Homo sapiens: one gene and its partner. The protein of the gene in region 1 purifies or fractionates together with the protein of each later gene. This does not show direct contact. Each region holds a gene or a part of one and is shown on either strand. Other genes may lie near its edges.

Evidence for each region.
Region 2: the proteins of ETV5 (region 1) and MYH14 purify together in Homo sapiens (affinity purification with mass spectrometry, with the first as the bait; one large-scale study listed by BioGRID). This does not show direct contact.

Annotation. Positions count from the first base shown.
Region 1 is NC_000003.12:186,067,315-186,071,133, forward strand, and holds part of ETV5 (ETS translocation variant 5), read right to left. Parts: intron 1-3,819. UniProt on the Homo sapiens protein: Binds to DNA sequences containing the consensus nucleotide core sequence 5'-GGAA.-3'.
Region 2 is NC_000019.10:50,279,938-50,283,756, forward strand, and holds part of MYH14 (myosin-14), read left to right. Parts: intron 1-99; coding exon 100-204; intron 205-293; coding exon 294-446; intron 447-1,656; coding exon 1,657-1,905; intron 1,906-3,819. UniProt on the Homo sapiens protein: Cellular myosin that appears to play a role in cytokinesis, cell shape, and specialized functions such as secretion and capping.

The DNA of each region.
Region 1 (3,819 bases):
CCAGCTACTCTGGAGGCTGAGGCAGAAGAATCGCTTGAACCTGGGAGGCGGAGTTTGCTGTAAGCTGAGATAGCGCCACTGCACACCAGCCTTGTGACAGAGCGAGACTCCGTCTCAAAATAAACAACAACAAAAAAACCTAAAAAAATTAGCCAGGCGTGGTTTTGTGCACCTGTAATCCCAGCTACTCAGGAGGCTGCGGCATCAGAATCACTTGAACCCAGGAGGTGAAGGTTGCAGTGAGCCGAGATTGCGCCACTGTACTCTAGCCTGGGCAACAGAGCAAGACTGTCTCAAAAAAAAAAAAAAGTGAAACCATCATATGAAAGTAAATATATATGAAAACTTACAAAACTTGGGAGTGAGGGAAAACCTAAGTATCATACCAACAGCAGAAATCATCAAGATAAACCTGGATATACCTCACTGTATAAATTTCTATAACTTAAAAAGACATCGGAAACAAAACCAAAAGAAACACATCAAACCAGGGGGAAAGAATCTGCAGTAGTCAGAAAACACCAGAAACAAAACCAAAAGTAAAACTGAGGAAAAATCTCCACAGATACAGGAATCTCACTGTTGGCAAAAAGAGCTTTTAGAAATTAACAAAAGATGAATATCTCAAGAGGAAAAAAATGGGCAAAGGACATAAACAGGAATATCCTTACAGAATAGGAATGGTCATAAACAAAAAGTTTAACTCATTAGTAATTAAAAAAGTAACAAAGTCAGAAGAGAAGTGTTTTTCCTTTTAGCTTGGAAGATGAGCAGGCAGTTACTAATTCTGTGCCAGGTACCTGAACAGCAATTCAGTCACAGATGATCAGGTATAACTACAAAGATGGTCACCAATGCAGCTGTCTAACAAGGAAACTGGCTATATATATTATGATACAGTCATTTGGTTGAAAGCAACCATTAGAAATTACATAATATGTAAATATATAAGGTCTTGGAAAGGTATTTTTGACATATTAAGGAAGGTTGCTAAACAGTACGTAGAGTATCAAAGCTTAGCAAAAATAAAAGTAGTAGTATGGTGTCATATAAAACCACAGAAAGACTGACATTTAGATATTAACACTGCCTATCTGTGGGGTGGTTATAATTTTAGGTGATTTTCTTTTTTTGCTCATCTATAGTTTGATAATAAATATGCACTGTTTTTTAACAAGATAGAATAAAAACCTGTTGCTACTAGTCGAGTTTCCTTAACACTCTTCAGCTGTCAGATAAATCCAGATGTGTGCCAGCTGCCCTTTCCCTGTTGGGTGTGCAGTGTAGAAGGGAAAGCCTGCCGTGCCTTAGTAGGGAAGTGACCAAAGGCAAAGTTTCTTGGCTTTGTTTGCTTATCTGTGACATGGGGATGTATTATCCTCCAAATGCTCCTGAAATGGTGAAATACAATCATGTCTGTAAAGTATGGTTTCTGCCACAGCCATAATTGACAGACTATAGAGTTTAGGAAGGTGGTTGTGGAAGGCTGGAGATGTGTGAACTCTCAGTCCATGAAACAGACAGGAAGCACTAATCTATGTGTATAAAGAAAAGCATTTGTGAATATATACCCTCAGTTAGAAAGTAGGAGCCAAGCTTCAAGGAAAAATAATACAATCCTGTAATATTAAGGTCTTATTCTCTACTTTTAGCTTGAATTCTATTAATTCAAAGAATTCTTGAATAGCTTTAATAAAATAGTTTGAATTTGATTTGAATCAATGTGTGGGAACAGGTGGTCAGCAGATTTCTAGAACATCAAGATTTACAATCTTAAACTGAAGAGATCTGTGTACAGATAGAACACTGTTTACATCAGGGTATAGCACAGCACAATATACTGCCTTTACTACTCTACCTAAAGCAGCACGGTAAGATCATTTTATAATATGAAAACTACTGGGCAATTTACATGTACTTATCCTTTTATCCCAGACATCAAAAGCCTCAGAATCCACCTGGCCAATGTCTTAAACAAGTTTTACCAACTACTGAAGGTTCAGTGGGCTGATAGCCTTTCATGGGGCGCTGAATGCCTTACGGCACAACTTCTTCAAGAAACCTTTCAATGGTCTTTGAAGAAGTGTAAATTCCCGTCTCAGGTTTACACTTGACGTTTAGAACATGGGCACCGGCAGCATGCCGCAAACCTAAAGGGAATTCTTTCAGAAAAGAGAGACGAAGTTGTTTTTTTTTTTTTTTTTTTAAAAAAAGTCTAAAAAAAGACTTAAAAAAAAGTCTTGCTCTGTCACCCAGGCTGGAGTGCAGTGACTCGAGTGACTCGATCTCAGCTCACCGCAACCTCCGCCTCCCGGGATCAAGTGGTTCTCCTGCCGCAGCCTCCCAAGTAGCTGCGATTTTTAGTAGAAACGGGGTTTCACCATGTTGGCCAGGCTGGTCTTGAACTCCAGGACTCAGTGATCTGCCTGTTTCAGCCTCTCAAAAGTTTGCTGGGATTACAGGCAAAAGCCACGGTACCCAGCTGATGAAGGTATTCTTTTTATTTTTTGTTGAGACGGCGTCTCGCTCTTGTCCAGATTGGAGTGCAGTGGCACAATCTCGGCTCACTGCAACCTCCATCTCTTGGGTTCAAGCAATTCTCCTGTTTCAGCCTCTCAAGTAGCTAGGATTACAGGTGCCTGCCATCATGCCTGGCTAATTTTTTTTTTGTATTTTTAGTAGAGATAGGGTTTCACCACATTGGCCAGGCTGGTTTCGAACTCCTGACCTCAAGTGATCTGCTCGCCTCGGCCTCCCAAAGTGCTAGGATTACAGGTGTGAGCCACGGCGCCCGGCCGAAGATATTCTTAAGGCCTTATTTTTGTAAAGTGCCCACATCTTGTGCTACTTGAAAGGAATGGTAGTAACGCCTTCCATTTTCTCTCCCTTTCCCCTCTGCCACCATCCCAGCACCTTCGAAGGTGACCTCCAGAAATCAGTTCCTTTGATAGCTCCGAGATGGCATGTGCCGCTCAGTTCTGTAACCAGAGCCTCTGCAGCTGGCAGGCTGGTGGCCTCACTTCCGCTTAGTGCTCATCTTTTCTCACCTTCCAGAATGAAACTCTAGAGTTGGCCTGGTATGGCCTCCTCAGGAAAAGGTACTTCCACATGGGCACTAGCCAGCAACCTCATCCCCTCCCCGCGGCATAACTTTAAGGATGCGCAAAGCTTAGAGGCCTGTGATCTGCAGAACAGATTCTATAATTGGGATTGTTCCGTACTGGTTTGTCTTGAGACAGCAGGAGTGGCCAAGGGGGATCTCAGGGGTAGGTCACAAAGCCAACATATTTGGAAGAAAGATTCTCAGAGCTTGCTGCTGATAATGTCTTTTATGTGCAGAGATTAGTGAAGTCATTCAGTCCTTGTCCTCAAAATACATCCTGTGAACTTTACTCACTGACCTTCACTTGAACCACCCTCCCTTCTCCAGTCCTTTTGAAGTATCTAAGAATGTGTTGTATACATAATACAGCTACAACAAAGATGCCTCTAATTTACCAAGGCAGGCAATCACTTTCAGTGAAGGCACAGCCTGGTTCCTACCAAACCTCCTCTTCCTCCCCTTAACCTCCTCCCTTCCATCCACTCCCACCATTAGCCCAACAGAGTGCACGTGTAAGGAACTCACATTTGGTGAGCAAAGGGACTTCTGACTCCGAATAAGCCTAAATTCAATAGGTCACAGTTTAAGGCTTTTTCGGTGCCAGTTTATTTAAAGAACTAGTTATTTATTTATTTGTCAGATTTATATAGCGCCTTTCCTCCCACGAGCTCACCCACACTCCCAACATTTGGTTTACGTTATGAAAACCGTTAGAT
Region 2 (3,819 bases), on another chromosome or scaffold:
CATTTCACATTCCTGCCAGTGTGGTAGAGAGTTGAGGCAGATGGGGTCACTGGGTGGAAGCCACGATTGGAGGGCTTCATTCCCGTCCCTTCCCTGCAGGCTGAACTGGAGAATGTGTCTGGGGCGCTGAACGAGGCTGAGTCCAAAACCATCCGTCTTAGCAAGGAGCTGAGCAGCACAGAAGCCCAGCTGCACGATGCCCAGGTGACCCTGCCTGCCCTTCGGCTCCACCGTCACCCTCCCCTCCTTGTCCTCCCAGCCACACCTGACATTGCCGTCTCCTCCATCTACAGGAGCTGCTGCAGGAGGAGACCAGGGCGAAATTGGCCTTGGGGTCCCGGGTGCGAGCCATGGAGGCTGAGGCAGCCGGGCTGCGTGAGCAGCTGGAGGAGGAGGCAGCTGCCAGGGAACGGGCGGGCCGTGAACTGCAGACTGCCCAGGCCCAGGTGAGCAGCCCTACGTAAGACCTTCAGGGAGGCACAGCCCCCCTCACTGCTCCTCCTGGGTTCCCCAGCTCAGGGATGGCCATGCTGCCCACCTTCTCATAGGCCAGACCCATGGGTGCCTTTCTCATCTCTGACTCCCCCTTACCCCCCACAGCCCATGCCCAGCCCTGGCTGTCCTGACCCCTGACTCTCAGCCTCATCCCTTGTCCCAGCTCCAGCTCAGCCCCAGCTCCAGTGCCGTCCTCTCCCATCTAGATCCTCCTCTTGGCCTCTGGGCCTCCAGCCTCTCCCCTAACAGCTCATCCCCTGCACAGCCCCAGAAGCTTCTTTCTTTACCTGGAGCTGACCCTGTCCCTCCTCTGCTCACAGCTCTCCCACGCCTCCCCAGTACTCCTAGACAAAGTCCATGCCTCTCAGTCAGGCATTGAGGCCCTGCAATCTCTGGTCCTTCCTCTGCCTTTAGCTGTATTCATCTCTATCTCTACTTTCCTATTTTATTTGAAAAAAACCTTTTATTTTTCCAGACTTAGCATTAGGCTCCCCTGTGGGAAGTTTCCTGACCCGTCTTCTCTTTCTCCTCTGTCCCAACTCCAGTCACCTTGGGCTGGGACTGTCTCTGCCCATGAGTCTCCCCACCAGACTGAGAGCCCCTTCAAACTAGAATCCCATCAGAGTTAGATCCAGGTCTGTAGCACAGCCTGATATAGGGCCTGATGTATGGTAGGCGTTGAGAAATGCCTATTGAATGAATGAGTGATGGTACGTGCCTGCAGATATCCTTCAACTGGCAGACTTCTATGCATACTTCAAGACCCATCTCAAATGCTCCTCCTTCAGGAAGTTTCTCCTGAATGTTCTAAACAGATTCTGGGCACTTCCTGTGGACCTCCATAGCTCCCATACTGCTACCTTAACCCCTATCACCCTGGCTGTGACTCTGTGTCTCCCCCAGCAGCCGAGGGGCTCCCCAGGAAAGACTCCAGGTCTGATTCACCTCTGCATCTTGGAGGGAGTAATTTTAATTCCCTGGAAGAACTAGGGCTCATAGTATTCACAACTTCACACCACTCAGAGGCAGAAGAGCCCAGCAGAATGACCCCTTTCCCTCTTCAGGCCTCAGTCTCTTCATCCTGGAAATGGAGCACCACCAGCTTACACCTTGGTCACTCATGGCCGTGACCACCAACCACCCTCTCTCTCCTCCCCTCAGCTTTCCGAGTGGCGGCGGCGCCAGGAGGAGGAGGCAGGGGCACTGGAGGCAGGGGAGGAGGCACGGCGCCGGGCAGCCCGGGAGGCCGAGGCCCTGACCCAGCGCCTGGCAGAAAAGACAGAGACCGTGGATCGGCTGGAGCGGGGCCGCCGCCGGCTGCAGCAGGAGCTGGACGACGCCACCATGGACCTGGAGCAGCAGCGGCAGCTTGTGAGCACCCTGGAGAAGAAGCAGCGCAAGTTTGACCAGGTGGGGCACCTCAGTTCACCCAGCCGGGGAATCAGCAAGTCCATCTACGCTTCCCATGGTCGTTGTGAGGAACCAGTAATCCGTGCTGTCACGGCTCAACTAGGCAGTTGTAGTGGACCAGGAAGCAAGACCCTTCTTTGCTCTGGGCCTCTGTAAAATAGGACATCCCTCTGTCCTGATTCATGCCTCTTGCCACAGCATAATTCCTCGTAGCACCCACTTTTACTTTCAGAGCTGCCCTGGTTTTTGGATGACAAAATATACGAATACCTTCAGTACCCCAGAGATTGCTTATGAGAATTAAATCAAATAACTCATCTCACTTCTGCTGATTCACGGGGTACCTCAGGCAAGTTGCTTTTTCCATCTCAGCTTCAGTTCGCCCATCTGGAAAATGGCAATAATACCAAGCATCTGGCAGCCTGAGGATGAAATAAAAATCACAGAACCTTAGAGAGTTCAGATCAGGCAATCCTGAGGTTCAGATCCCAATTCGGCCTCTTGATGGCTGTGTGGCTTGGGCAAATTGCTCAACCTCTCTGTGCTTTATTTTATTCATTTAGAAAATGCAGTGTGAAGCTGGGCACTGTGGCTCATGCCTGTAATCCCAGCACTTTGGGAGGCCAAGGCGGGCGGATTGCCTGAGCTCAGGAGTTCACAACCAGCATGGGCAACACGGTGAAACCCCGTCTCTACTAAAATACAAAAAAATTAGCTGGGCATGGCGGTGTGCGCCTGTAATCCTAGCTACTCGGGAGGCTGAGGCAGGAGAATCACTTGAACTGGAAAGGCGGAGGTTGCAGTGAGCCAAGATCGTGCCACTGCACTCCGGCCTGGGTGATAGAGCAAGACTCCATCTCAAAAAAAAAATAAAAAATTAAAAAAAATTTTTTTAAATTGTCATTTCCCTGTAGGTGGTGCAGTATGTTTTTCTAGCTGACTTACGATTTCTCTCTTTATGTTTGGTTCTTAGTGGTTTGACTGTGATATGCCCAGCTGTGGGTTTTTTGTATTTATCCTGCTTTAGATTCACTGTGCTTCCTGTAGCTGTGGGTTGATGTTTTTGATCAAATGTGGAACATTTCAGCCATTATTTCTTCAAATATTTTTATCTCCCACTCTCTCTCCTTCCCCTTCTTCTTGGACTCCAAATACATATGATTTGATTGTAATACTCTTCCACAGGTCATTGAAGCTTTATTATTTTTGGCATCTTCTGGAATTTTATATAAATTATTTTCACATAAATCTCTTTTGGGATGGGCTTATTTTACTCAAAATAATTTTTTTTTTTTGAGACAGAGTCTCGCTGTGTCACCAAGGCTAGAGTGCAGTGGCACGATCTCAGCTCACTGCAACCTCCACCTCTCAGGTTCAAGCGATTCTCGTGCCTCAGCCTCCCAAGTAGCTGGGATTACAGGTGTGCACCACCATGCCTGGCTAATTTTTGTGTTTTTAATAGAGACGAGGTTTCACCATTTTGGCAAGGCTGGTCTCGAACTCCTGGCTTCAAGTGATCCACCCACCTCGGCCTCCCGAAGTGCTGGGATTATAGGAGTAAGCTACCGCACCCAGCCTCAAAATAATTAGTCTGAGATCCATCCATATTTTTGCATATCAATAATGTATTCCATGTATCAATAATGTATTTTTGCTGCTGAATATTATTCCTGTGGTATAGATCAGCCACATTTTGATATTCATTAACCTTTTGATGAACATTTGGGTTTTTTTCCAGTTTTTTTCTAGTTATGGATAAAACCTTAGTCTTTCTCAAAGGTGGTTTTAATTAACATTTCCCTAATGACCAGTGACGTTGAGCATCTTTTCATATGCTTATTTGCCATCCATATATCTTATTTGCTGAAGCTTCTGTTCAGATCTTTTGCCTATTTGTTAATTAATGTTGTTTGT